Homo sapiens: one gene and its partners. The main gene of each other region encodes a partner of the protein of the gene in region 2 in a complex. Each region holds a gene or a part of one and is shown on either strand. Other genes may lie near its edges. The genes, in order: ZNF451, SUMO2, ATF7IP and UBE2I. A codon is read from its position in the direction of its gene.

The links.
Region 1: the proteins of SUMO2 (region 2) and ZNF451 are in contact, whole or in part, in a crystal structure (PDB 5D2M), measured with the Homo sapiens proteins. Residues at the interface, in NP_008868.3 of Homo sapiens: Asn19, Ala23, Gly24, Gly27, Ser28, Val29, Val30, Gln31, Phe32, Lys33, Ile34, Lys35, Lys42, Leu43, Ala46, Arg50, Gln51; in NP_001026794.1 of Homo sapiens: Asp30, Ile31, Gln32, Phe33, Val34, Ser35, Glu36 (codon at 6,030), Gly37 (codon at 6,033), Pro38 (codon at 6,036), Leu39 (codon at 6,039).
Region 3: the proteins of SUMO2 (region 2) and ATF7IP are in contact, whole or in part, in an NMR structure (PDB 2RPQ), measured with the Homo sapiens proteins. Residues at the interface, in NP_008868.3 of Homo sapiens: Met1, Ala2, Asp3, Glu4, Asn14, Asn15, His17, Val30, Gln31, Phe32, Lys33, Ile34, Lys35, His37, Thr38, Pro39, Lys42, Ala46, Arg50; in NP_001375109.1 of Homo sapiens: Gly965, Val966, Ile967, Asp968, Leu969, Thr970, Met971, Asp972, Asp973, Glu974, Glu975.
Region 4: the proteins of SUMO2 (region 2) and UBE2I are in contact, whole or in part, in a crystal structure (PDB 5D2M), measured with the Homo sapiens proteins. Residues at the interface, in NP_008868.3 of Homo sapiens: Gln25, Asp26, Gly27, Arg56 (codon at 1,908), Gln57 (codon at 1,905), Ile58 (codon at 1,902), Arg61 (codon at 1,893), Phe87, Gln88, Gln89, Gln90, Thr91, Gly92, Gly93; in NP_003336.1 of Homo sapiens: Asp19, Asn85 (codon at 6,509), Cys93 (codon at 6,485), Leu94 (codon at 6,482), Ser95 (codon at 6,479), Ile96 (codon at 6,476), Asp102 (codon at 6,458), Arg104 (codon at 6,452), Ile107 (codon at 6,443), Lys110 (codon at 6,434), Gln111 (codon at 6,431), Leu114 (codon at 6,268), Gly115 (codon at 6,265), Glu118 (codon at 6,256), Leu119 (codon at 6,253), Glu122 (codon at 6,244), Asn124 (codon at 6,238), Asp127 (codon at 6,229), Pro128 (codon at 6,226), Ala129 (codon at 6,223).

Annotation. Positions count from the first base shown.
Region 1 is NC_000006.12:57,093,032-57,100,311, forward strand, and holds part of ZNF451 (E3 SUMO-protein ligase ZNF451), read left to right. Parts: intron 1-6,029; coding exon 6,030-6,110; intron 6,111-7,280. UniProt on the Homo sapiens protein: E3 SUMO-protein ligase; has a preference for SUMO2 and SUMO3 and facilitates UBE2I/UBC9-mediated sumoylation of target proteins. Plays a role in protein SUMO2 modification in response to stress caused by DNA damage and by proteasome inhibitors (in vitro).
Region 2 is NC_000017.11:75,172,904-75,180,183, forward strand, and holds part of SUMO2 (small ubiquitin-related modifier 2 isoform a precursor), read right to left. Parts: intron 1,921-7,280; coding exon 1,849-1,920; intron 1-1,848. UniProt on the Homo sapiens protein: Ubiquitin-like protein that can be covalently attached to proteins as a monomer or as a lysine-linked polymer.
Region 3 is NC_000012.12:14,361,221-14,368,833, reverse strand, and holds the start of ATF7IP (activating transcription factor 7-interacting protein 1), read right to left. Parts: upstream 3,153-7,613; 5' UTR 3,007-3,152; exon of another isoform or gene 1,644-3,006; intron 1-1,643. UniProt on the Homo sapiens protein: Recruiter that couples transcriptional factors to general transcription apparatus and thereby modulates transcription regulation and chromatin formation. Can both act as an activator or a repressor depending on the context.
Region 4 is NC_000016.10:1,319,432-1,326,711, reverse strand, and holds part of UBE2I (SUMO-conjugating enzyme UBC9), read right to left. Parts: intron 6,539-7,280; coding exon 6,429-6,538; intron 6,275-6,428; coding exon 6,195-6,274; coding exon of another isoform or gene 6,053-6,194; exon of another isoform or gene 1,983-6,052; coding exon 1,919-1,982; 3' UTR 1-1,918. UniProt on the Homo sapiens protein: Accepts the ubiquitin-like proteins SUMO1, SUMO2, SUMO3, SUMO4 and SUMO1P1/SUMO5 from the UBLE1A-UBLE1B E1 complex and catalyzes their covalent attachment to other proteins with the help of an E3 ligase such as RANBP2, CBX4 and ZNF451.

The DNA of each region.
Region 1 (7,280 bases), on a different chromosome or scaffold from region 2:
AACAAAAACTTCTTATTTAGGTCTGTTGTTCTTATTTCTGTTTAGTAATATGATCCTTTATTCAACTACTGTTTTTATATCTTTCTTTGAAATTGCAGATTTTTTATGTGATTTACTTCTAAAAAACTAATAGCTGATGATGTGATAGTTCACAGTGCTGTTCTAGATATGAAGGTATACAAACTGCTGAGGGAACCTATCGTAATTTTGCTAACAAAACAATACAAGAGATTCAGGTTTCAGCCAAGATTATTGATATAGTGTAGCATCATTGGAAGTCAGTGAAATCAGGATATAATTTCCTAAATAGCTTCAGTACCACATAGATCAAGTATTAATACTTTAGCTGCAGAAGGGAGTCAGGCAGAAAATAGTATTATTTGGCTGGGTGTCTTGGGGCTGTGATTGGTTTAATAAATAAAAAGTGTTGAAGCTCATAATATGCAAAGCCGTGAGTTAAGTTCCTTAGAGCTACAAGGATTAATTTGAAATACATCCTACCCTTAAGGGTCAGTATTTTAGTGTGAATGATGAGATAGGAGGTGAGAAGTATGTAAATAGTCCTTAGAGGTAGTAGAAAGTTCTCTTACAGAAAGTACATAGTGCTGTTAAAAAAGGACATAAGACTTGCAGTTTATCATAGTAGTAGTTAGTAGTAGTAATAAGTAGTAGTTAGGATTTATATGTGTTTAAAAGGGCATTTTGAGTAGAAGAAACAAGGAAAGGCATCAGAATGGGAAAGCAGAGAGGATTATGTGTAGTCGTGAAAGATTTTTTGTTGTTTTTTAAGGTGGGAGGAGGCGGCATGGGCCAGGTAGTATAGATCTTGAATGTTGGATTAAATTTGAACTATAAAACAGGCACAATTGGAAACTATTTGAAATGTTGCCTGTCAGGACTGCACAAGTAACCTGTGTCCCTGACTTCTCTATATGGGGGGAAAAATGAATTATTTAGGGTTTCAGATTTATGCTCAAATCCATATTCTTTGTTTTAGAGAAAACTTTGGTTGTAGTAAACTACCTTTTTAGTAGACCATATTTTGGTGTATTGATATCTCTTTCCAATTAGTAGGAAATTGGTGTTTTGGCTTAGAGAATCAGTTTTCTCATAACAGGAATGAAAGCTTTTTATTTCATGAAACATATTTTAAAACTTAGAATATTGGTTTAACTGTTTTCCTAAACTGTTTTGCCATGCTTCTACATGTGCTTCTGCCCCTAAATTGTGTGGTATTGGGAATAGAATTCTTTAATTTTTAAATTTTATTTTTATTTAATTTTTTATTTCTATTTCAGAGACAGGGTCTCACTCTTGCCCAGGCTGGAGTGCAGTGGTATGATCATAGCTTACTGCAGTTTTAAACTTGTGGGTTCAAGCAACCCTCCCTCCCCAGCCTTCCGAGTAGCTGGGACTACAGGTGCACTCCACCATGCCCTGCTTAGAATCCTTTATTTTTTGTTAGTGGTGCAATAGGGCATGAGAATGATGGTTTACTAGTTGATGGATAGAACAAATGCAAATAAAAATACCTTGTAATTACAGGACCATACGCAGTTATAGTTGTTAAAGATATAAGTAGTAATTATAAATATTATACCAAATTATTTTTTCTTGATATTTTTATTATAAACATAACTTCTTTTGAGAAATTGGTAATTTATTTTTGGTCAGTGTTACAAAGTATTCACAGATGGGGTAATAGAGGTAGTCCATTTTCTCTTAAGGAAGAAAAAATGTGTTATTTCAGGAACTCAGGTAATAAACATTGATTTAAAAATAGTATTTATGTTTTGAACTACCTCACAATTATAGTGCCTGTACAGCCAGTTGTGTTTAGAGAACCAAGTATACCCCACTCAGTTTTCCCATCTGTTAAATGGGATAATACTGATAATTCAATATCTCACCTTGTAAAGTAATTTGGGGGATTAAGTGAAATGTACATTAAAAGCTTTGCACAAGGCATGGTACAGGGCTCAATAAATGTTATTGATTCTTAGTCAAATAAATGGAGTACTAAATGTTTTACTTCCGTAAGCTCATTATCATGGAAGTTTTTCCATATTCACTGAAAATTAGCTAGTGTACACTATTTGTGTATAAGTAATCTTTTCCTTTGGGGTACATGTCTGTCCTTATTTTTCCACTCAATCTCTTTGCCATTTTAGTGATTTTCAACATGATTCCCCTTCTCATTCTACTCTGTCACTTAAAGCTCAGTAATTATTTGTTGAATGTATAAATATTCTAAATGACTTCTGTTTTTTCTCAATTTTGGATTTTCTGTGATACTTTTTTTTTTTTTTTTTTTTTTTAAAGAGATAGGGTCTCAGTCTTGCTTAGGCTGGAGTGCAGTGGCGTAATCATAGCTCACTGCAGCCTTGAACTCCTAGGCTCAAGCAATTCTGCTGCCTCAGCCTCCCAAATAGCTGGGACTACAGGCACGCACTACTGTACCCAGCTAATTTATTTTATTTTTGTAGAGATGAGGTCTCACTGTTCTGTCCAGGATGGTGTCAAACTCCTGGACTCAAGTGATCCTCCGTCATCGGCCTCCCAAAGTGCTGGGATTATAGGCGTGATCTACCACGCTCGTCTGGATTTTCTATCCATATTTTCCTTTTTTTCTTTTCTCTTAGTGTGAATCATATAAAATTATTGTTCTTCAGTAGTTGAAAAATGTTTGCATATTGGTTTAATGGTTCACTGCAAGAATAAATTTCTGATAACCTTATTTGTCCTTACTCCTTCCCTTTAAATATTACTGCAGCTTTTTTTTTTTGTTGTTGTTGTTGTTGTTGTTGTTGAGACAAGAGTCCCTCTCTGTTGCCCAGGCTGGAGTGCACTGGCGTGATCTCAGCTCTCTGCAACTTCTGCCTCCTGGGCTAAAGCGATTCTTGTTCTTCGGCCTCCTGAGTAGCTGGGATTACAGATGTACACCACCACGCCCAGCTAATTTTTGTATTTTTAATAGAGACAGAGTTTTGCCATGTTGGCCCAGATGGTCTCGAACTCATGGCCTCATGTGGTCCACCTGCCTTGGCCTCCCAAAGTGCTGAGATTACAGGCATGAGCCATCCTGCCTGCAGCTATTTTTAAATTATGTTTTTGATCATTTTCTTTCTTCCTTTCTTTCTTTCTGTTTTTTTTTTTTTTTTTTTTTTTTTGAGATGGAGTTTCGCTCTTGTCACCCAGGCTGGAGTGCAGTGGGACAGTCTTGGCTCACTGCAACCTCTGCCTCCCGGGTTCAAGCAATTCTCCTGCCTCAGTCTCCTGAGTAGCTGGAATTAGAGGCGCCCACCACCATGCCTGGCTAATTTTTTGTATTTTTAGTGGAGACAGGGTTTTACCATGTTGGCCAGGCTGGTCTCAAATTCCTGACCTCAGGCAATTCGCCCACCTTGGTCTCCCAAAGTGCTGGGATTACAGGCATGAGCCACCGTGCCCAGCCTGTTTATCTTATTTTTTTCCAGCCCATTTTACTTTTTACCTTGCATCCTGTCATCTTTCATCTTCTTCTTTACTTTCTGTGCATGGGAACTCTGCCTCTGTGTATTTCTGGTTACCGGGGCGGGGGGGTAGGGGGGCGCTTTTGTGTTCTGCTATTTCTGTGGACCTATAATGAAGGTTCCTAATGCATATTTCTTGTAGAGAGCAAAGTAAGATGATTATATCAATGGGAAAAGCTATCATTTTAATTTTTCTTCTTGGATCGAACATACAATTTTCAGTCTTTTTTTTTTTTTTTTTTTTTTTTTTGTGACAGAGTCTTGCTCTGTTGCCCAGGCTGGAGTGCAGTGGCACCATCTCAGCTCACTGCAGCCTCTGCCTCCTGGGTTCAAGCAATTCATCTGCCTCAGCCTCCTGGGTAGCTGGGACTACAGGTGCCCGCCACTACACCCTATTCCTATTTTTAGTGGAGACAGGGTTTCACCATGTTGGCCAGGCTGGTCTTGAACTCCTGACCTCAAGTCATCTACCCACCTCTGCCTCCCAAGGTGCTGGAATTACAGGTGTGAGCCACCGTGCATGGCCTACATTCTTCATACCAGATGTAGATTTTAAAGTAGGTGATTCAGCTCTGTTTACCATATATTGGAGAGTATTGCTTCCTCTGTTTCTTTAATTTTTACTTCCGTGTTTATAGTTTGAGCAAAAATCTCAATTCCTTTGCTACAGATCCCTGCCCAGTTTTGCCCTCTTGTTTTATCTTGGTATCTGAATTAGTACCCAAAAGATGGCAGTTTCTTGGTTGAGCAGAAGTCATAGCCTAGGGGAGAAAGAAGCTATCTTTGAGACTGGATGCCTATTCTAGGGAAGATCATTACCTAGATCTCAGCTTCTGTCTCCAGCAGTCAACTTTCTACATCCTACAAAATCCTTTCCTCAGCTATTATTTCTTCTGTGTTCCTTTCTTTTGTTTCCAACATACTGGATTTCTCAAAAGAATATGGCCTTTTCTACTGCATTCTCTAGTGTTTTAGAGCCTGGCTTCTGTGCTCACTACTTTCTTGAAAGTTGCTCTCTCAAAGACATTTAAAAATGTCTGGTTGCCACATTCAGTGGCATTTTATTGTTGCCGTGTTTCTGGCCACATTTAACACTGACAGCTTTTTATTGAGGCAATATGATAGTTCAGTTTAGTTCTAGAGTTTAATAGTCTTCTAGGGGAGCAACTCTCAAGTCTTTATTTCCAGGTATGTTCATACTTCCCAGATTACAGGCCTGCATTTCCAGCTGTCTGCTAGATACACCCTGTGTACCACTGTTACTTCAGCCCATAGGAATGTCAGCTTTCTGTTTCTGCTTTCCAAAGTTATACTATTGGCATTACTATTCTTATAGTCACCTGAGGTTAAAAACTTAGAGATCACTGACTCCTTGTTTTGTTTTTTAAATAATCTTTTAAATTTATTTTTATTTATATATTTATTATTATTATTATTATTATTATTGGGATAGTCTTGCTCTGTTGCCCGGGCTGGAGTGCAGTGGCGTGATCTTGGCTCACTGCAACTGCTGCCTCCCAGGTTCAAGCAATTCTCCAGCCTCAGCCTCCTGAGTAGCTGGGACTACAGGCACGCACCACCATGCCTGGCTAATTTGTACATTTTTAGTAGAGATGGAGTTTTACCATGTTGGTCAGGCTGGTCTCGAACTCCAGCCTGGCCAACATGGTAAAACCCCATCTGTACTAAAAGTACACAAATTAGCCAGGCATGGTTCTAACCTCAGGTGATCCCCCACCTTGGCCTCCCAAAGTGGTGGGATTACAGACATGAGCCACCACACCTGGCCTAATAATCAATCTCTTTTAGTTTTCCATTTTACTTGTATTCTCTTGTATATCCACTACCATACTCTTCTTGCCATCACCACCATTAGTTCTGCATTGTCATGTGCCTATACTGATTATCTTGCTTTCCCTGCTCTCCATACTCCTCTATGTGATTGATCTTGAAGCACAGTTCTCATGTTATTGTCTTATTATTATTTTTTATTTTCTTTTGCCTATTGAATAAAATCTAGGCTTTTAAGCCTGACATTCAAGGCCTGGTTGATGAAGAAATTGGCATGGATGGAAAGAAAGAATGGAAAAGAATTCAGGTTTGATGCTTGACTCTGCAGTGGTGGATGATGAAGCTGAGCTATAAGTCAATTCATTTTTGAACTTGGATATATTAACAGACTTTTGATACCAATTCTAGGTGTAAAGCACTGGATTATAATATTTGTGTCTTTGTAGCACTGTTCTTATATTAATTTTCCTTTCCCAAGTAATTGACATGGCCCTAATATTCTACAGGGGTGTAGGTGCTTCCTTTTAGGTCTTGTCATCATTTTACATTTATATATTTTGAATATTTTCCTCTGCTGCTTTTGTTCTGGTTATTTTCTGCTACCCACAAAGCTCCCTCTTCAGAGTAATTCTTGCCAGTCCCAACCAAAAAAAACACTGTAGGTTTAAATGCTAATTTGGTTTGAATAACTGTTAATGACTTCTAAATTTGCTTGATTGTTTATAGGAAGGACCATTACGACCTGTTCTTGAATACATTGATCTGGTCAGCAGTGATGATGAAGAGCCTAGCACCTCTTATACTGATGTAAGTACATTATATTTGATTTGTGTTTCTTCACTTGTGTCTTTTAAGAGGTATTCTCTAAAGAGAGTTACCAAATCAGGGAAGGCTGTGTTTAGAAATAGCCAGTTCTATTAGAATGGGCTAAAATAGGTAGTCCAAGGAGTCCTTTGCCCAGATCTCCTACTTCCAGTTTTTTTCCTCTACTTTGAATGAGATTATGAAAAAAATGATAATATGACTCTGGGAAATTCAGAGCCTTAGAGGTGATATCTGATAAAATGGAAATGGAATAAAAACTGCAAGCTTATTGATTCCTCTTTCCCTTCTCTTTTCCTTTACTCTCCTCAGGTGCCCTATACAACAGGATTCTTTTGTTCCAGAACCACATGACCACAGAAAATTTGTTTTCTCTTAGAAAAAAGGATATGTAGAGATCCTTTTAGGAATGGAAAGTGGGGGAAGGGTTTATAGGGGATATATTACTTCAGTCATCATCCCTTTAACCTTGTCTGTGCCCCACATATTTGGAGTTATTTATCTTACCTGTGATGTACTGGTTGTAGGTTTGACCCTTGGACCAATACTTCCCTTGCTCTGAGAATTGAACTAGTTGAGCCCTTTGTAACAGTCTTGCCTTTCATTTGTCCTTGCTTTAGCCCAAACTTCTGTTAATGAGCTGTTTTCATCTTGGATTAGAAAACTCTTAGTTATTGTTCAGAGTGGCCACAAACTTCTTGCTCTGTGATATAGGGGATTGAGACTTGGACTTGGAATCAGAATACCTGGGTTTGAGTCCCAGCTTTACTCTTTACAAATTCTGTGACTTTGGATAAATTAAGTAACCTTTTAGCCTCCGTTTTTTAATCAAATAATACCTACCTCACAGGGTTGTTGTGAGGATGAAATGAGGTAACAAATTATAACTTCTTATAACTACAAACCATAAAGTAGGACTATACAACTGGGAAGTTTTGTTATTCGTGGACAGTGAATGACAGAATTTTCAGAGGTGCCTAAAATGACTCTAATGGGGGAGTTTTAGATTTTTTTTCTTCTCAGTGGAACTTTCCTTAAGTTCTCTTTGCCATCATTAGCTTCTTGCATATCTTGAGTAGAACTTAACATATCTTGAATGGGATATTTTTTTCTTTTATTCTTATGAGTGGTCTCACACAGGACCAAACAGCAGGC
Region 2 (7,280 bases):
AACAAGTGCACCTGGCCCGTAATTCCTTTTGAGAGACTGTCACCAGTTGAAATGTCTTCAAAATATTCTTCTTTTCAGTACAACTCAGGGGCTTTTCCAATTTTCAAAGATTATCAACAAAACTACAATCTGGATGTGCTGCTTCATGCCACATTTATCACTTTCTAGTTTTTACTGGGTGATAAAGTTGAAATTCAAAAGTACATGGGATCCAATTTAAATTTCTACTATCACAACATTGTAAAATATGTTTCAGAAACTGTAAGTCTTCTATTTTTGAGACAGAGTTTTGCTCTATCGCCCAGGCTGGAGTGCAGTAGTATGATCATAACTCACTGCGGCCTGAAACTCCTGGACTCAAGCACCCCTCCCACTAAACTTCCCAAGAAGCTGGGACTACAGACACATGCTACCATGCCCAGCTCTTTTTCTTTCCTGTAGAGACCAGGTCTTGCTATATTGCCCAGACTGGTCTTAAACTCCTGGCCTCAAGCAACCCTCCTGCCAGTGTCAGTTTCCTAAAGTGATAGGACTACAGGTGTGAGCCACCAAGTCAGGACAAGACTGGAAGTCATTTTTTTTTTTTTTTGAGAGAGGGCCTCACTTTGTCACCCAGGCTGGTGTGCAGTGGTACCATCTTGGGTGACGGCAGCCTCCACTTCCTGGGCTCAAGCAATCCTTCCACCTCACCCTAAGAAGTAGCTGGTACTACAGGCACGTACCACTGCTCCCTGGCTAATTTTTGTATTTTTTTGTAAAGAGAGGGTTTTGCCATGTTGCCCAGGCTGGTCTTGAAATCCTGGACTCAAGTGCTCCGCCCACCTTGGCGTCACAGTGCTGGCATTACAAGCACTTTGTAATCTTGAAAATGGCTCTCATGAGCCACCCTGCTAGGACAAAACTGGAAGTATTTAATGGAACTTTGAAAGGGTAAAAAGAAACAAAGAGCTTCTGCCACAGAAGACAATCCAGCTGATCCTACAGAAAGTGACAGAACAAAATGAAGTGGTACATAAAGAGTTAAAGGATCAGAGAGCATCACGTTTTGTAGTAAGGATCTGGAAAATCTCCTATTATCAGGGGCTCTCCCTGTCAAACAAAGCTATGGGACGTGGCAATTAGGGCTATTAGTTCCTTTTTGTTCATGAAGACACGTAAAAGAGAATTTCAATTCAGCATGTAGAACTAAAATGGTGAGGATTTGGCTGGGTGCGGTGGCTCACACCTGTCAATCCCAACACTTTGGGAGGCCAAGGCGGGCGGATTACTTGTGGTCAGCAGTTCAAGACCAGCCTGGCCAACATGGTGAAACCCCATCCCTACCAAAAATACAAAAATTAGCCAGGCATGGTGGTGCATGCCTGTAATCCCAGCTACTCTGGGAGGCTGAGGCAGGAGAATTGCTTAAGCATGGCAGGCGAGGGCTGCCATGACCCAAGATCGTGACACTGTACTCAAGCCTGGGCGATGGAGTGAGATTCCGTCACAAAAAACAAACACAAACCACTGGTGGGGTTGGGCACATTGATTCGTGCCTATAATCCCATCACTTTGGGAGGCCAAGGCTGCAGTGAGCTATAATGAGGCCACTACACTTCAACCCGGGCAACAGAGAGGCCCTGTCCCTAAAAAAATAATTAAAATGAAAATTAAAAATAAATGAATAAAAACCATTGGCATTTCCTGAGCCTATTCCTATTTTCCTTTCTGTTCCCCTCTGGTCATACTTCCCAAAGCTCTGAACTCTACAAGAACTTATACTCCAGTGTCTAAACGTTCAAATTCATAAACACAGCTGTTCAAAGAATTACAAATGGTAATTTTTCTAATTAGGAGAGATTTTTTTACCTGTGCAGGTGTGTCTGTTTCATTGATTGGTTGCCCGTCAAATCGGAATCTGATCTGCCTCATTGACAATCCCTGAACGAGAATTTAAAAGCAATAAACAGCATTAAGAGAAACAGAATTCTATTTACATAAAAGTACATGCATATTTAACCATGAATATATTAAAGAAATACCTAAATAAACAATTGCCAACATGTTAACATACCCTATAGGTAAAAAGATTTGGGGTGATTTTCATTTTCTTTTTTTTGAGACAGTTTTGATCTGTTGTCAAGGCTGAAGTGCAGTGGCGTGATCTCAGCTCAAGGCAACCTACACCTCCTGGTTCAAGCGATTCTTCTGCCTTAGCCTCCCAAGAGTAGCTGGGACTACGGTCCCCCGCCACAACAACCGGCTAATTTTTGTAGTTTTAGTAGAGACTGGGTTTCATCAGGTTGGCCAGGCTGGTCTCGAACTCCTAACCTCAGGTGCTCCGTCCGCCTCAGCCTCCCAAAGTGCTGGGATTACAGGAGTGAGCCATGGTGCCCAGCCTCTCATTTTCAGTGAACAGTAAGATGTAGTATTTTTTTTCCTTTTCTTTTTTTTTTGAGACAGAGTCTTGCTCTGTCACTCAGGCTGGAGGGCAGTGTCGCGATCTCGGCTCACTGCAACCTCCACCTTTTGGGTTCAAGCAATTTTCCTGCCTCAGCCTCCTGATTAGCTGGGACTAGGCAGGCGCCACCATGCCTGGCTAATTTTTGTATTTTTTAGTAGAAACAGGGTTTCGCCATGTTGGCCAGGCTGGTCTCGAACTCCTGACCTCAGATGATCTGACCACCTCAGCCTCCCAAAGTGCTGGGATTACAGGCATAAGACACTGTGCCCGGCCTGTTTGTTGTTGTTGTTTTTGTTTGTTTGTTAAGACAGAGTTTTGCTATGTCGCCCAGGCTGGAGTGCAGTGGTGCGATCTTGGCTCACTGCAACCTCCGCCTCCTGGGTTCGAGTGGTTCTCCTGCCTCAGCCTCCCGAGTAGCTGGGATTACAGGCGCTTGCCATCATGCCCAGCTAATTTTTGTGTTTTTAGTAGAGACAGGGTTTCACCATGTTGGCCAGACTGATCTCGAACTCCTGACCTCAAGTGATCCACTCACCTCAGCCTCACAAAACGCTGGGATTACAGGTGTGAGCCACTGCGCCCAGCCAGTAAGTCATTCTTTTAGAAAGCTTTACTGCTTTTCAGACACAGCTACTATAATGTTAAATAGAACATACCTTGAGACAAATATGCATTTAAATGAGTTAGACAAGGAAATGAAATTTTTTTTTTTTAAATGGAGTCTCGCTCTGTCGCCCAGGCTGGAGTGAGTGGAACAATCTCAGTTCAACGCAACCTCCACCACCGGAGTTCAAGTGACTTTCCTGCCTCAGCCTCCTCAGTAGCTGGGACTACAGGCTCATGCCACCATGCTGGGCTAATTTTTTGTATTTTAGTAGAGATGGGGTTTCACCGTGTTAGCCAGGATGGTCTCAATTTCCTGACCTCGTGATCCGCCTGGCTGGCCACTAACAGGAAATTTAAAGGAAAAAAATGCCCATTTAAAGACTCCAGTCTGAGCTCGGGGGCTCACACTGTAATTCCAACACTTTAGGAGACCAAGGCAGATCATCTGAGGTCTGGAGTTCAAGATCAGCCTGGCCAATATGGTGAAACCCCGCCTCTACTGAAAATACAAAAATTAGCCGAGTGTGGTGGCATCCGCCTGTAATCCCAGCTATTCGGGAGGCTGAGGCAGGAGGATCGCTTGAACCTGGGAGGCGGAGTTTGCAGTGAGCCAAGATCGTGCCCTAGCACTCCAGCCTGGGTGACAGACCAGATTCAATATCAAAAACAACAACAACAACAACAAAACCGACCTAAAATGCCCCAACCTACACCCTTGAACTTCCTGGAATAGCTTTAAAAAAGCACCGCTTTTTAATTTCCTTTAATACTTACCCAAATCTGTAATTACTTACTGTCTTACTAAAAAACACACTTCAGGAGATATAGGAACCTAGACTGTTTTAGTTACACAGTCTATCCCTTGCACATAGTAGGTGCTGCTCAGTAAGTATCAGTGGCATAAAAGGGATGAAAAACAGTATATAACCATCATCTACTTAAAAACAAAGGCCAAGTATTGTGGCTCACGCCTGTAATCCTAGCACCTTGGGAGACTGAGGTGGAAGATCACCTGAGGTCAGGAGTTCGAGACCAGCCTGTCCAACATGGTGAAACCCCGTCTCTACTAAAAACACAAAAATTGGCTGAGCACAATGGCACACACCTGTAGTCCCAGCTACTCCAGCCGGAGGTTGAGGGGGGAAAATTGCATGAACCCGGGAGGTGGAGGTTGCAATGAGCCGAGATCGTGCCATTGCAAGAGCGAGACTCTTGTCTCAAAAAAAAAAAAAAATTAATTAATTAAATAAATAAAAATACAAAAAATTAGCCAGGCTAGGTGGCAGGCGCTGTAATCCCAGTTATTCAAGAGGCTGAGGCAGGAGAATTGCTTGAACCCAGGAGCAGAGGTTGCAGTGAGCTGAGATCATGCCACTGCACTCCAGCCTGGGCAACAGAGCAAGACTCCATCTCAAAAAAAAAGAAATTAAAAAATTTGCATGGTGGCCAGGTGCAGTGGCTCACGCCTATAATCCCAACATTTTGGAAGGCCAAGGCAGGTGGATTACCTGAGGTCAGGAGTTTCAGAGCAGCCAACCTGATCAACATGGTGAAGCCCCGTCTCTACTAAAAATACAAAATTAGCCAGGCGTGGTGGTGCATGCCTGTAATCCCAGCTACTTGTGAGGCTGAGGCAGGAGAATCACTGGAACCTGGGAGGCGGAGGTTCCAGTAAGCCTAGATTGCGCCATTGCATTCAGCCTCAGTAACAAGAGGAAAACTCCATCTTAAAAAAAAAAAAGAAAAGAAAAGCCAGGCGTAGTGCTTCATGCCTGTAATCCCAGCACTTTGGGAGGCCGAGGTGGCGAGACGGGTGGGTCACCTGAGCTCAGGAGTTCAAGACCAGCCTGGCCAACGTGGTAAAACCCCGTTTCTACGAAAAATAAATTAGCCGAGCACGGTGGTAGGTGCCTATAATCCCACCTACTCAGGAGGCTGAGGCAGGAGAATTGCTTGAACCCGGGAGGTGGAGGTTGCAGTGAGCCGAGATTATGTCACTACACTCCAGTCTGACCGACAAAGCGAGACTCCGTCTCAAAAAAAAAAAAAAAAAAAAAAAGAATCGCCCAGTGGCACAAGCCTATAGTCCCAACTACCTGGGAGCCTGAGGTGGGAGGACTGCTTGAGCCTGGGAGGCAGAGGATGCAGTGAGCCATGATCATAATCCTCCCACTGCACTTCAGCATGGGCAACAGGGCAAAAGCCTGTCTCAAAAAAAAAAAGGCAAAATTTTGCAATTGCAGAAAAGTTAAATAAGATATGCATAAGAATAGTGTTCAAGGCCAGGCACCAGTGGCTCACACCTGTAATCCCAGCACTTTGGGAGGCCGAAGCAGGCGGATCACGAGGTCAAGAGATCGAGATCATCCTGGCCAATATTGTGAAACCCCGTCTCTACAAAAAATACAAAAATTGGCTGGGCACGGTGGCACGCACCTGTAGTCCCAGCTACTTGGGAGGCTGAGGCAGGAGAATCGCTTGAACCCAGGAGGCAGAGGTTGCAGTGAGCCGAGATGGTGCCACTGCACTCCAGCCTGGGCAACAGTGCGAGACTCTCAAAAAAAAAAAAAAAAAAGAAAAGAATACTGTTCAAAACCACCAAACTGAAGCATGATTCTGTTTGTTTGTGGTTTTGAGACAGGGTCTCATTCTGTCACCCACACTGGAGTGCAGCGATGAGATCATGGCTCACTGCAGCCTAGACCTGCCAAGCTCAAGCAATCCTCCCACCTCTGTCACTGAAATAGCCTGGACTACAGGTATGTGCCACCACAACCACCTAATTTTTTTTTAAGAGATGAGGTCTGGGCCAGGCGCAGTGGCTCATGCCTGTAAACCCAGCACTTTGGGAGGCTGAGGCGGGTGGTTCACGAGGTCCTGTAATCCCAGTGACTTGGGAGGCTGAGGCAGAAGAATCGCTTAAAACTGGAAGGCGGAGGATGCAGTGAGCCGAGATTGCGCCACTGCACTCTAGCCTGGGCAATAAGAGCAAAACTCCACCTCAAAACAAAACAAAAAAACCAGATGAGGTCTTACTATGTTGTCCAGACTGGTCTTCCAGCCTTGGCCTCCCAAAGTGCTGGATTACCACGCCCAGCCTATGATTTTCTATTTTGTATGCAGTTTTGCTAAAGAAGTTCTCCAAAAGGATTACCTTTTAAAATTCCCCTGTATCCTGAAGGGGCACTAGTGTTCAAATATAGAAGATGCCAGTTTATAAATTATTTAACACAATTCATAAGTTCATGTAGGGTGATTTCAGCAAAATTCTTCAAATAAGAGTATATGGTATCTTGCTGGGCACAGTGGCTCACGCCTGTAATCCCAGCACTTTGGGAGGATGAGGCAGGTGGATCACCTGAGGTCAGGAGCTCAAGACCAGTCTGACCAATATGGTGAAACCCCATCTTGCTGACAATACAAAAATTAGCTGGGCGTGGTGGCGTGCGCCCGTAGTCCCACCTACTCGGGAGACTGAGACAGGAGAATCGCTTGGTCTCGGGAGGCAGAAGTTGCAGTGAGTCGAGATTGCACTACTGCACTCCATCCTGGACAACAGAGCGAGACTCTGTCTCAAAAAAAAAAAAAAAAAAGGTATCTTTATAAGGAACTACATACAAGAAGGTTTACATATCAATTATGAGCACAGTATTTTCTTATTACATTGTAAATACACTAGGCATAAAAATACTTCAAACATTCTAAAGTTTTTTTTTTTTTTTCCTTTGAAATGCTCTCGCTCTGTCACCCAGGCTAGAGTGCAGTGGTGTGATCTTGGCTCACTGCAGCCTCCACCTCCCAGGTTCAAGGGATTCTCAGCCTCAGCCTCCGGAGTAGGTGGGATTATGCGCGTGTAACACCACGCCCAGCTAATTTTTTTGGATTTTTAGTAGAAATGGGATTTTGCCATGGTGGCCAGGCTGATGTCAACTGCCACCTGCCTCAGTCTCCCAAAGTGCTGGGATTACAGATATGAGCCACTGCATCAGGCCTAAAGGAAGTTTTTATCTTCACTGATCTTTCAAGTATAAACTCAAACTCAATTTCCCAACTTACATAGGTTTAAGCCTTATTCTATTTTGAGCCTATTTAGAACAATCTGAAGGGGCCAGGCACAGTGGCCCATGCTTGTAATCCCAGCACTCTGAGAGGCCAAGGTGGGCGGATCACTTGAGGTCAGGAGTTGAGGTCAGGTCTACTAAAAATACAAAATTAGCCGGGCGTGGTGGCG
Region 3 (7,613 bases), on a different chromosome or scaffold from region 2:
TAAGTAGCTGTTACCAACAAATAAGAAAAACAGTAACACTCATCATAGAAAAATACACAAAAAGTCAAACAGCTAATTCACAGAAAATGAAAAAAATGCATATATAAAACAATAACAAATTCAACTTCACTAGTTATCAAAAAAAGTTAATGAGCTACTATTTTTCACCCATCTAATTGATGGTGGTATTGAATATGATAAAAAATGCTTTTCAAAAAAAAGTTTTTATCAATTTTGCAAATTACTTTAAAAGTCCTTTGAAAGTAATTTCAAAGAAATATTCTGAGGTATAGTACAAGAACGTTCACTGTAGCATTATTTTTAATAGAGAAATGAGCAAAAAGCAAAACAGGAAACAAAAAATGAAAGGTTTAATAAATCACAGTAAATTCTTCTTAGAGATAACAATAATATGTAACCATTTTAAAATGTGTTTAAAAAGAACATTTGATCATGTGGGATATTATAATAAAGTATCATGCAACCATTTAAAGACATATTTTAGAAGAATAATGAAATGGGAAAATACTCATAACATTAAAAGAGTAGAAATGAAATTATGGTACCAATGAAAAACTAATTAATAAACATTTATAGATTGCTCAATCATGGAAAAGTGAAGTCACAAATCACCAATACCTTTAGAGTGGTTATTTCTAAGCATTGTTAATTAATTTTCAATATTTTCCAAATGTTCTATAATGAATAAGTTTAAAAATATTTAAATACATTTATCACATATGCAAAACCTAATTTAAAGAAAAAATAGTTCTAATTGTTTAATAACTCAAACCTGTCTTTTCTAAACTACATATAAATTTTTAAATTTACAAAACTACAAAGATTTTAAATAACTTCAGTAACTTGGTATTCATTCCTGGAGTAACCTAGTCTTAATATTTATATATGTTGGATATGTGTCAAAATTTTGTGGCATCATAACCACCAAACTAAAATTTTAAAATATACTTGTTATTGACAAAGTACTAATAAACAAATAGTTGGTGTTCAGGCAATTAATTAATCTTATTAAGTTTACATGATTATATCTGCCTTGTAAGAAACATGACAGCAAAATCGTCCCATCAATAAATATGTTCTTCATATTCAAGAGCATTTTCAAATACCTCTTACTACCTTCAATATTAACCTAAAAAGCAATCATCTGTATATTCAAATGAAAACATACGCTTATATACACCAAACTATTTCATTTTTCTGGAAATGTAAAGTGTACCATGCCCTAAGATCAAAGATCAAAGTTCTTTTGTTAACCGAAATATTTATGTGTATGTTCAACTCGAAAATGCCTGAAATAGCATGTGGTAGAAAGGGGCTGCTAGGTAACCACTCCAGAAACATAAAAGGGAGAAAATTACACAACTGCTCTCTAAATATACTTCTGTGTAGAAGACCTCAGAGATCCAAGAATTACATCAGGTCAAATATTCTCTTGAGAAAAAAAGAAGAATCTTTCCTACCTCCATTCTATCTCATATGTGACGTCATTTAAAAATCCACCAACCAAAAGTATTACTTTCAATTACATCTAGGTAATATTTACTAATGGTATTTGTTTTAGGCAATAAAAATTTCCCTAAATTAACCGAGATTATAAAGCAAGAGGCACGTCTTCATTTGACAGTAGACTGATTCAAACTTAAAGAGTTATAACCAACCAAGAAACCAGTTGTTGTATATATGAACCACAAATGAAGTCTATGGAAAACATTTGCAAGTTTCTTTGCTTAGTAAGAAAGAATTTGCACAACGGGAGAATCATATCAAATCTTATATAACTTCCCCCAATTGTGTTACATAAGATTTAACTATAGTTGACACTACCATTTTAAACTAATCAGTAGCATATTTATAATTACCTTCCCTAAAAAACTATTAATAAAACCAGGAGCACACTTACAATTAAAAAATCAAACACAACTGTATCTTACACACATGCATACAGTACAGTGTTTAAAAGAAAAAAACAGATTTTTTTTATTAATGGTCCACTTTCTTCAAAGAGGCCTCAGGGTAATGGATGTTCTTTCTAGAATTCTTCATCAGAAAAATTTACCAAATAAATGTTATAGCTTACATATCATAGCAAACAAAAATGCTAAGAAAATGAGTTGATTAATTTCAAAAGTAACAATAATCTAGCTGAAGCAGTAATGAACAAGTCACCTAAGAAACTTAAAACATGTAAAATTCAAATGCCCAGAAACATACAAACTGATTAAAATTAAAACTTTATTTACTTAGGATCAAACATTTAAAACCAAAATAATCCTCAGATTGAGATTTCATTTTCGATTATACTGTAATTTCTTCCACTATTCCCGTTCCCCCAATATTCCCAAAACTAAAATTGTTTCTGTTTTGTAAACATTCCACACATCCATAACAGAACAGGTAAAAATAGGGTTAAAAATGTATTTGCAAATATGCAGTTCAAATAAATGCACTTCCCGTGAGAACACCACTAGGTGCTGATCTTTACCACCGTAAATATAAACCTGAATCCAGTAATACTTTAAAACTGAAATTATAATCAAGAACCACAAATGAAAATCATTTTTACAGAAAATTAAGTCCACAATTTTTCAAAAAATCGAAAAAACAGAGAAGAGCTTGAGGTCGGCCCAGGAGTACAACATTAGAGTAATGTTTTTCTTGAAAATTGTGAGAATTTAAGGTTAACACAAAGAAACCCCTCAAGAACGAGGAAAATTAAATCTAGAACCCAAATGGCGTCCAACAAGAACATTAGATCTTGAAAATGAATATTGCGCTTGCGCAGCCACCGCCCCGCCAGCTGCACAACTGCAGCTAGAGCCCGACCCCGCAAGATCACGTGCTCCCATGCAGCGCCGCCCGCAGCTCCGCAACCGCGCAGGCGCAGACACAACTCCCGCAGCCGCCATAATGCGGTCTTGACTCTTCAGAAATACAATAGTAATTTAAGAAAATGTGGTTTTAACAGCCCCTGGGATTCACATATACCTTTTGGGGCGGAAGCTGAGGGAGGGGGAACCAAGTTCCTTCCTACAGAGCCGTCCCGCGCAGCCGTCCCCGACGTTGCCGCCTCAGCTTTTCGCGCGCTTCAGTCGCCGCGCCGCCGCTGCCACCGCCGCCGCCTCCGCAGATTCAAAAACAAACCCGCTTCTCCCTTGCACGCGCCGGGGCCGTTATGCAAATTAATATGGGCGGGGCTCCGGGGGGTCGTGCTATGTACCCCGCCCACTGTGCTATCAGCCAATAAGCTCAAGGACTAGCCATTCCCCATGCAAATTCTGGTTTTTTATTTGAATGAGGGACATTGGCCCCGCCTCCTGCGTGGAAAAGAGAAGGAAGCCCGAGGTGGTGGCGCTGCGTCTCTCAGTTGCAGTGTGAGGTGTGTTTTTTGAGTGGATCTTCCTCAATCAATAAGTAGCACTTTGTGAGCGCCCTCTATGAGGCTTAGAAAAGAAAGAAGGAAGGAGGTAGGTGAGAGTTTAAAGAGCAGAGGGAAAGATTTTCATAAAAGCCAGGAGTATGTTGATTTATTCATCATTTATGTTTTAAATTCACAGAATGTACTTTGAATTGTATTAATAATGAAGGAATGAAAAAAACATACTTTCTTTCAGTTGCTTGGTAACAGAGCAAGCACTTTTTATCATACTCTCTCACCAGAAGTTGTATTCATCCCATTTATTCAATTTCATGCTGGGAGTCGGCCTTTAATGAATTCCACAGGAGGTAGTGGACAAGTCACTGCCTTACTGGTTAAGAGATCTGGGTTCAAGTTCAACTACTGCAGCTTCCTTGCCGGTTCCTCGGAATAAGTGTGTTACTCAGTTTTCTCACCTGTATAATGGCAATCATGACTATAGTTGAACTAGGTTGGAAGCACTAAATGATAGAATAAATGTACATATGTTTTGGCCAGGTGCCGTGGCTCAGGCCTGTAATCCCAGCACTTTGGAAGTCTGAGGGGGGGTGGATCACCTGAGGTCAGGAGATCAAGACCAGCCTGGCCAACATAGTGAAACCCCGTCTCTACTAAAATTACAAAAATTAGCTAGGCATGGTGGTGCGTGCCTGTAATCCCAACTACTCAGGAGGCTGAGGCAGGAGAGTTGCTTGAACTGGGACCTGGGAGGCCGAGATTGCAGTGAGCGAAGATCTCACCACTGCACTCCAGCCTGGGCTACAGAGCAAGACCCCTTATCAAAAAAAAAAAAAAAAAAAAAGAATAAAAGTACATATGTTTTGCAAGGCAAGAATAGCCTGAAAATAATATTAGATGGTACCGTGTGGTTATTGTTTTTTTATGTAACTTCTCATTATATGAATGTATTGGTTCAGTATTTATTTAGCAATCACTGTGTTGTAGATCTGTTAGGTGCCTGTCCTCAAGAAATCTGTACTCTAGTGAAGAAGACAGAAAACTGAACAAGAAATTTTTGTAACTAATAAGAAATTAGAATAGGGTTGTTAATACTTATTTTTATAACTGGAACCATTCAATTTACTTAAAATATAAGGTGGCCTTTAGAAATATCACCTAGGGCCGGGTGCAGTGGCTCACGCCTGTAATCCCAGCACTTTGGGAGGCCGAGGCGGGCAGACCATGAGGTCAGGAGATCGAGACCATCCTGGGTAACATGGTGAAACCCCGCCTCTACTAAAAATACAAAAAAAAAAAAATTAGCTAGTCGTGGTGGCACGCGCCTGTAGTCCTAGCTACTCGGGAGGCTGAAGCAGGAGAATCACTTGAACCCGGGAGGCAGAGGTTGCAGTGAGCCAAGATCACGCCACTGCACTCCAGCCTGGGCAACAGAGTGAGACTCCATCTCGAAGAAAAAAAAAAGAAATATCACCTAATCCAGACCTAGAGAATTAGAAAAGCCTTCCTAGAAGAGGTCATCTCTATCATGATAAATGATTTAATTAATTTTTTGCCTAAAAGTTGGACCTCATTGGGACAGCAATGAGGAATCATTTAAAAGGTTTTAAGTCGGGATATAACACAATTAAATTTGCATTGTTTAATCGCTAAATGTTGTAACATCATTAGCACAGTCCTTAGCATATACTCAATAAATTATAGATGCTCAATTATAATTTATTTATTATAATTTTCATAGTACATCAGTGCTCAATTATAAGTAGATGCTCAGAAAATTAGAAATATTGATATTAAATGTTACACTCCATAATAATAAGAGAAATTGGATTGGAATACTAGAGCCCATTATGTTTCTCTTTTTATGTCTTCTGTAAGCATATAAAAAAGAATCATTTTTATAATAGTCTATTCTTTTTTTTTTTTTTGAGACAGAGTCTTGCTCTGTTGCCCAGGCTACAATGCAGTGGCGTGATCTCAGCTCACTGCAACCACCACATCCCGGGTTCAAGCAATTCTCCTGCCTCAGCCTCCTGAGTAGCTGAAATTACAGGCGTCCACCACCGCGCCCAGCTAATTTTTGTGTTTTTAGTAGAGACAGGATTTCACCATCTTGGCCAGGCTGGTCTCAAACTCCTGACCTCATGATCCACCCGCCTCGGCCTCCCAAAGTGCTGGGATTAAAGGCGTGAGCCACCACATCTGGCCTTCTTTCTTTTTTTTTTTTTTTTTTTAAGACAGTCTTGCCCTGTTGCCCAGGCTGGAGTGCAGTAGCACGATCTCAGCTCACTGCAACCTCTGCCTCCCAGGTTCAGCGATTTTCCTGCCTCAGCTTCCTGAGTAGCTGGGACTACAGGCACACTCTACCACGGCCGGCTAATTTTTTGTATTTTCAGTAGAGATGGGGTTTTGCTATATTGGCCAGGCTGGTCTCGAACTCCTGGCCTCAGGTAATCTGCCCACGTCAGCCTCCCAAAGTGCTGGGATTACAGGCATGAGCCACCATGCTTGGCCTATGATAGTCTATTCTTGATTATCCATGCTAATAGCAAATGGAAAAATAATTCAGCATAACCACAGATTTATCAGTTTTCTTAGATATGCTCATATTCTAGACTTGCCTCCTGAAGACTCCAACTAGACAATTTTATTGGATTCGAATCTCCTCAGATATCCTCAACCACAGTTACAGTCTCTTCAGCCATGCAAACCCGCTGGTTGACCTAATCAACTATTCATTGATTTGTTCAATGAATACAATATTTATAATGTCTCACAAACTATTCTGGGCACTGGGGATGCCCAAAGGAAATGACACTGTTTCTCATGGGGAAAGAGTTGTAAATACAGATAAACATTATGAGATCATTAATATTTTGGTGGTATGTCTTAAGCATAAAAAAATTCTAAAATGAGAGAACCTAAATCTTCCTCATACTATATGGGAAAACTTCACAGAGGAAGTGATACTTGACCTGACTTATGATGTAGAACTTTGTACCTAGGCTGTCAGACTAGGTACAAAAGAAAGTATTCAAGTTAGAAAATAACAGAAAATACAAAAACAATGAAGAATGAAAAAAGCTGAACTTAAGACTTCTAGGTAGGACCACATTTAAAATATTTATCAATCCCTATATCACTGACCAATCAGAATGGAAGCAGGCTTGAAGACTTCCCTCCCCCCACCCTATTTTGTCAGGTGTTAATTCTTTAGTTGTAGGATCTTGAAGAGGTCCAGAGGCTCTTCAGCTGGGGACTGAGCCTGACTTGGTGGTATGAAGGGTGTGGTAGGATGGGGCAGCTACTTACCAGTTAGTACAAAAGGATTTTCATATTTTATCTACCATTATGTTTTTATTGGTATATTTAGGCTAAAATGATACAGGCTAAATATAATTTTCCTAGGAAAAAGTGCTAGAGTAAAGTAGGATCATAGAACCTGTCTCACAAAAAAAGAAAAAAAAAAAAGACCTAAACTAAAATAATAAATATAAACCAATACATTTCAGTTGTAGCAACTGAACAAAGAAAACAGAACTTTTTAAAAACAGCATAGGCCGGGCGCGGTGGCTCACACCTGTAATCCCAGCACTTTGGGAGGCCGAGGTAGGTGAACCACCTGAGGTCAGGAGTTCGAGACCAGCCTGACCAACATGTTGAAACCCCATATCTACTAAAAATATAAAATTAGTCCCACGCCTGTAATCCCAGCTACTTGGGAGGTTGAGGCAGGAGATTTGCTTGAACCCAGGAGGCAGAGGTTGCAGTGAGCTGTGATCATGCCATTGCACTCCAGTCTGGGCAACAAGGGCAAAACTCCATATCAAAGAAAAAAAAAGAAAAACAGCATAAACTCCGAAAAGCCATTGAAATGGAAAACTGAAGTTTCTGAGTACAAAATAATAAAACAGGAAGCTTAATCTAGTGCTTTCAGGTTCTGAAGGCTTACTACCTGAATTGAAACCTTGGCTCTACTTCTTACTTGTTTAGTGTCCTGAAATTCTCTACGCAAATGTTTCCCAGTCTATAAAATGGGGATGATAAAAATAGCCCTCCCGAGCAAGCACAGCTCATGCCTGTAATCCCAGCACTTTGGGAGGCAGAGGCAGGTGAATCACTTGAGCCTAGAAATTCCAGACCAGCCTGGACAACATGGCAAAACCAGTCTCTACAAAAAATACAAAAATTAGGCTGGGTGCAGTGGCTCATGCCTGTG
Region 4 (7,280 bases), on a different chromosome or scaffold from region 2:
AACTATTACTAAATGTAGTTCAGTCATTACAAAATAAGACATTCTGGGAGCGGGCTACAAATATTCAAACCAGCTGAATTCCCCAGGTAAGGCCCCGTGTTATAAACAAACCACAAACATCAGACGTCAGACCGAGAGCTCAGTGACTGCAGGGTGCGTAGCCGGAAAAGCCAACAAGGCACTGGCACCGCAGAGTCGCTGGAGGGGTGGTGGGGGGCACTGCCGGCTCGGGGGGCCTTTGGAAGTCACCTCTAACTTCGATTCCCAGCCAACAGCGGCTGGAGTCCCACACGGACCTGGAGGGTGCCGAGCTCCCCTTCCCAGGGCCCTGGACCGCCCTCCCTGCATTCTTTGCTCCTTTGGGGAGCCCCGCCCTGCCCTCTTGGGACCCTGCACTTGGGCCACGGGGACCCAGCTCCAGCCACCGGGGGGTGCCAGGGCAGCAGGGCCAGCTCCAGCCCCAAGGCTTGAAACGAAACTGAGGAGGGCCAAGCTCGCTAGGATGGGGAGACTGGGTTGGGAGCCAGAGGTTGGAGGGCTGGGAGCACCGGGCTGTGTCCCCCAGGGCTTCCCATCTCTGTCCACTGTGCCTTCCTGCTGGGAGGTGACCGGCACCCAACTTCCCAGCCAGGCCACTTCCTGCAGTGGCTCAGGCAGCCCCAAGAGGCCTGGCCGGCCCAACCTTTGCAGAGGGCTCAGCGTCAGGACGGCTGCTGAGGCGCACAGCCTCCCCAGGACAGACCACACTCAGGTGGCCTCAGGACGAAGAATTCCAGACACAGGCTGCCCAGGGCCCTCTACCTGGCGCTAAGGGTCGGGGAAGCCCTGGAGGGCCACGGCTGTGGGCTCTCCCAGAAAAAGCACCTGGCGTTTGCCACGGGTGGTAGCAAGGCTGCCTCCTGAGGACACAAGGGACAGACACCTGAGGTGGCACCCTATGCACAGCGCAGCTCCATCCCTGTGACCTGGCCACTGAAGAGGGGAACCCCCGCCAGCAGGCTGCCCGGATAGGAGTCCTCAGGCAGCCCCCAGCCCTGGTCTGGACCTGGCCTTGTGGCCCCCAAGACAGCTGGCACCGGTGCAGTTGCCAGGGTCTCGATGCCAATCCCGACCTATGCAGATCTTAGCTGCCCAGCGCTCTACAGCCCGCAGATGCGGGGAGCACAGAAACCTCAGCAGCACTTTGTACACAGCCCTGTTTACAAAGATCCAGGGCAAGACAGAGCCTCACAGCCTGCGTGCATCCGAAGCAGATGGAGAGCCTGGTCCTGGCCCGCGGTGGGGCTGCAGGTGGGTGGGGAGGGCCGGGCACTGGGAGGCCGCCTCCTCTCACTTTCAATGATAATAATGCAACCAAAACCTTTATATAAACAGTTTATTTACTCTAAACAGCAACACAGACAAAACGCCATATAAACACAAAGGAAGTGGCGCAGAACCGAGATGCTGACCTGGGGTCTGAGGCTCAAAAGCAGCACAGCCCAGGTTCTAGAAGGTTCTAGAGAGGAGCGGCAGGAGGGAGGGTGCATTTCCATACAGCCAGCTGAGGCCAAGTGCAGCTCTGCACGGTGAGAAGCATGCCTGCATCCCAGAGCGAGGAACTCGCCCCTGGGGGACTTACCCAAGTATAAAAGTTTATAATTTTACAGCAGTTGAAATACTGACATCAATATTAAAATAAAAGCGAGTTTTACATAACAATCAAAAATACAAAAGACCGAAGGAAGAGACCCTGTATGGAAACGGGCAATTCAGCGAATCGAGACCGCACACCCGCGGCGGCAATGGAAGATGGCGCCCGCCCAACCCCCCCAGGTGACTAGTCATTGTATGGAGCAACTTTAGATTTGCAAAAATGTTGTAAACAAGTTCTTGCCAAACCAATCCCTTCCTTTTGACGATGCCACAAGGTCGCTGCTTATGAGGGCGCAAACTTCTTGGCTTGTGCTCGGACCCTTTTCTCGTACTCCACTCTGTTTTGGCTGAGGAGGTCAAAAGAGAAGAGACGTGTTAGAGGGCTGAGCTGCCTGGCCCTCACGCTCGCCCCGGAGCCAGCTGGGCAGACCAGGCTGCAGGATGGGACCTCCTGGGGGAGGGCAGTGTGGAGCTCGTCATAGTAACAGAAGCAGAAGCCCGGAGAAGCAGGGAGGCCTGCGTGGTGGGGAGCCCATGCTGGCTCTGACGTGGCTGAGACTGTCCCGTGGTCTGACGGGGGCAGAAGGGCAGGGAGGAGAGGAACCCACGCTGGGTGAACGTGGTGTTCAAGGGGGACAGAGGGGTCCCGCAGGGCTGCGAGGAGGGCTCAGGCCCAGAGGGCCCACGCCAGGGCCTGCAACATCGTTGCCGATGCCAAGTCTGGTCCTAACTAGTAATCAGCAGCTTCTCTTTTCTGTAGGTCTGGGGACAGTCCTAATAAACTGAAAACACTGACTGCTTGCCACTGTTTTTGTTAATTCCCAAAAATAGACACCAATTTCTGGAGGGTTTTTCCATGAGGCTCTCAGCCGCAGGGGCAAAGGTGTGGGAAGGCAGGCCTGGTTGAGAAGGCGTTGTGCCCGAGCTGGGCAGTGCAGGGGCATCAGCGAACAGGTCTGGAGCTGGGTAGAGTGAGGCTCAGCCTGCAAGCAGCTGCCCAGGAGAGTGGCATGGCACACACTGCCCGGGCAAAACAGGTGGGCGGGAGGGCGGCCGAGGCTGCACCTAGGGGCTGATGGGTCACAGGGTGCAGTGTGACCCTGAGGATGGGGGAACACCATGACATTTATGGAGGTGGCTCCTGGGGTCGCAGTCCTGCCAGTCTCGCCAGGATTGGACCTGGTCTGAGACACTGAGCCTCACTCTGCATGGTGGAACAGCCCAGGACGGCAGCAGCGCCGGTGCCACCCCCACCCACGCCAAGGGCCTGGACCGCAGCCCAGACCCCAGCGCCCTCCTTGGGCCACCAGCCGGCCCCAGGGCAGAGCAGCTCAGCTGGGTGGGCGTGGAAGGAACCAGAGGCGGTGGCTACACGTCCCAGCTCTTCCTTGACCAAGCAGAGGCCCCGAGAAAAGGCACCTGCCAGGGCAGGAACACGGTCCAAGGCCTCCAGGAAACCCAGGAAAAACGATCTGAAACCCGCACACATGCTTCACAAAGGGTGCTTTTCAAGCGGATGTGTGTAGGAGAAAGAACGTTTGTTTACGTGCACGCAAGTGTACAGTGCAGCCCAGCAGGCACCAAGCCCAGGAGACGCTGGGGAGAGTCACACGGGGCGGGGGACTGCAACCCTGCCCAGCCCACGCCGCAGATGGGAGCCACAGCCCAGCTCTGGAGATGGTCGGCAAATGGGGTGCAGGCCAGACAGAGCTCACGCCCACACCATGCTGGGGATGGCAGACCATCTAAGGGCTAGGCAGGAAAACATTTGCCTTTTGTTTTGTTTTTTTGAGACAGAGTCTGGCTCTGTTGCCCAGGCTGGAGTGCAGTGGCGTGATCTCGGCTCACTGTAAGCTCCGCCTCCCAGGTTCAAGCCATTCTCCTGCCTCAGCCTCCCGAGTAGCTGGGGTTACAGGTGTGCGCCACCACGCCCGGCTAATTTTTTTTATTTTTACTAGAGATGGGGTTTCACCGTGTTAGCCAGGATGGTCTCAATCTCCTGACCTCGTGATCTGCCCACCTTGGCCTCCCAAAGTGCTGGGATTACAGGCGTGAGCCACCGCGCCCGGCATGCTTTTTTTTTTTTTTTTGAGACAGGGTCTCACTTTGTCACCCAGGCTGCAATCTTGGCTCACTGCAGCATCAACCACCTGGGCTCAAGCAGTCCTCCCACCTCAGCCTCCCAAATAGCTGGGACTACAGGCATGCACCATCATCCCCGGCTTAATTTTTTTTTTTTTTTTTTTTTTAAAGAGAGCAGGTCTTGCCATGTGGCCCAGGCTGGTCTCCAACTCCTGGGCTCAGGTAACGTCCCACAGTGGCCTTGCAAAGTGCTGGGATTACAGGCATGAGCCACCACCCCTGGCAAATTTTTTAATTTTTTGTAGAGATAGGGTCTCGCTATGTTGCCCAGTCTAGTCATGAACTCCTGAGTTCAAGCAATCAGCCCACCTTGGCCTCCCAAAGTGTTGAGATTACAGGTGTTGGGCCACCACACTTGGCCTAGAAATCATTTTCCAGGCACGGTGGCTCATGCCTATAATCCCGGCACTTTGGGAGGCGAGGCGGGTGGATCACCTGAGGTCAGAAGTTCGAGACCAGCCTGGCCAACGTGGTGAAACACTGTCTTTACTAAAAATACAAAAATTAGTCAGGTGTGGTGGTGGGTGCCTGTAATCCCAGCTACTTGGGAGGCTGAGGCAGGAGAATCACTTGAACCCAGGAGGCAGAGGTTGTAGTGAGCTGAGATCACACCACTGCACTCCAGCCTGGGCGACAGAGTGAGACTCTGTTTAAAAAAAAAAAAAAAAAAAAAAAAGAAAACATTTTCTGCCTCAAGGGCCATGTGGACACCCACGAGCACTGTGGCTTCCTGTCCAAGGGAATGCATTTCACGGACTCCTAGGGCACAGCAGGCCAGCACACAAACCCAGGTCACGCCACGTCCCACGAGCCACTTCCAGCAATGGCTTGGCTGACTGAGCGGCTATGAGTTTTTTTTTTTTTTTGAGACAGGGTCTCGCTTTGTCAAGCAGGCTGGATTGCGGTGCTGCAATCTCAACTCACTGCGCATCAACCTCCTGGGCTCAAGCAGTCCTCCCACCTCAGCCTCCCAAATAGCTGGGACTACAGGTGTGCACCACCATGCAGGGGAGCCAGGCTGAGCCTGGGGTGGCTGCTGTGATACTTGCTCCCTGCCTGGGGCCTCTGTGCCACCCTCGGCCACCAGGGAGGGCACCTTGCAGACACCTGGGCTGGGCCCGCATCCAGGGAGAAACACATCTCTCCAAAACCACGTGCTTTTTTTTTTTTTGAGACAGCATTCCTCCGTCGCCAGGCTGGAGAGCAGTGGCAGGATCTCGGCTCACTGCAACTTCCGCCTCCCGGGTTCAAGTGATTCTCCTGTCTCAGCCTCCCAGGTAGCTGGGATTAGAGGCACCCACCACTACGCCCAACTAATTTTTTGTATTTTTAGTAGGGACGAGGGTTTCGCCATGTTGGCCAGGCTGGTCTCGAACTCCTGACCGCATGATTCACCCACCTCGGCCTCCCAAAGTGCTGGGATTACAAGCGTGAGCCACTGCGCCCGGCCGAAACCAGGTGCTTTTCCTCACGACCTGTGCAGGCCGGGCCTAAGGCAACCGGGACCCCTCAGCCTCCCCCCTCCTGACCAGGAGATGCACCCTGGAGGGAGAGGGCCTCTGATGCCCACAGTGGCAGGGATGTGTGGGGTGGCTGCAGGTGAGCCTTCTGGGTCCCTGGCCATTGGGGGCCCTGAGACCCCCTCAGAGGTGTGGGGACCCGTGGTGAGATGGGGCTGGGTTTCTCAACGCTGCAGGCGGAGCAGTGGGGGGTCGGAGGCCCCAACCCACCTTCTTATGGACCTGCCCAGAACAGCTGCAGAGGGAACAGGACAGGCGGGCGCATGGCCTCTGCTCAGGGCAGGGTCCTCCCTGCTTTCCCCAGCACTGTTTGGCTGTCGTCTGCATCCTAACTCACACCAGGCCCTCCTCGGTGCAGACAGGACCCCAGGCCCACGGGGACCCTTCTAGCCACAGCAGCACCTCACAGGGACAGGGTGGAAGCCCAGGGTCCGTGTGACAGCATCACGTCACTGAGCCCTGCTGGGCTGGGCCCCCCCACAGAAGGAACCAAGTTGTAGAGGGGATGGGGACAAGCAGCAAGGGCGGCGCGGGAGGCTGGGGTCCATGGGAGGCTGAGCCGGTGGAGAGGCCTCTCAGCATGGCCTCCTCTGGCACCCACGCCCAGGGTCCTTCCCCTCCTAGCTGGCCACAACTCACTGGGGCAGTGGCCCAAGACAGCCCGTCACCTGGCCTGCTCCCTCCCCGGGACACGGCTCCGGCGCCATCCATGCCCACCGCAGACGGTGTGCAACGGTGCCTGCTGCCCACAGGGTTTATGCCCCCCGACCTTCCCCACAGAGGCGTGGACCCTGGCTGTCCGTAGGGTGAGCCTGTGTCCTCCACTCCCGTCCTGCCAGGCGGCCTTGGCTGGGACGGGGAGGAGCTGCCACCAGCGGGGCCAGGGCTGCTACTAACCAGTAAATCGTGTAGGCCTCTGCTTGAGCTGGGTCTTGGATATTTGGTTCATTTAGAAGTTCCTGTATTCCTAATAGGATCTGTGCCAGAGACAAAAACACAAGACGGGTGTGAGCAGTTTGAAAGGGAGACACCGTGAGACTCGGCCTCAGCCACAGAGAATGACCACAGACCCACGTGTCCGGAGGGGAGACTAAGGCAGCCCTGCCGGTGCCAGAGGCGGAGGCCCCGTACCTGTTTGATTGTGATGGCTGGCCTCCAGTCCTTGTCCTCCTCTAAGATGGACAGGCACACTGTCCCCGAAGGGTACACATTCGGGTGAAATAATGGTGGTTCGAATTTACCTGGAGGAAGAGGAAGAAAGGAAGCACTTTTTGGAGGCAGGCACTGTCCCAGAGTCACGTCCTTCCCCACATCACCCTCCTCCCAACACTGGGGCCCCGGGTTGGTAGCCAGGTTATTTGGCCAAAAACTTTTCAAAAAAATTAAATTGTGGCCATGAGGAGACTAAAGGAAGACATATCCACCTTTGCACACAGGGAACAGAGCCTTGGGGACACGGCCGCAGCCGAGACGAAGCTGTGTCTCTCCCAGGACAGAACTCCCAGCACAGCCAGGCAGTCTGGGAACACAGGCCCCAGGGTGGCCACTTAACCTGTGGCCCCCACATCCTTTCCAGCTGGGCCAGACTCAGGGGAGATGGGAGGAGCTGCAGGAGACGTCCAGGGACATAGCCAACGCCCTTCCAGAGTCGGCTGTTCCGACGCAGACCCTCTGCTTCCAGGATATACGGGCTTTTAGGACCCTGTGTTATTTCTTTACAAAAAAGCAGAAAAGTTTGCCACCATTAGCCCCACCAGGGACCATCACAGTTGATATTCTAGGCTATTTCCCATCTTTTACCTGGGCATCCTCCCTCTTCTCTCTCAATGCTACGGAAGGACACACAGTGCGGCATGTCTAGTGCAGCCGGAGGAATTACCAGAAAGCCAACGCGCCACGAACACCTACAGCTTCCCCGAACACTCGCTCCTACCGACCACTGCATCTGCCCCGTAATCCCAACTGCAACATCCGCAGGCAGCT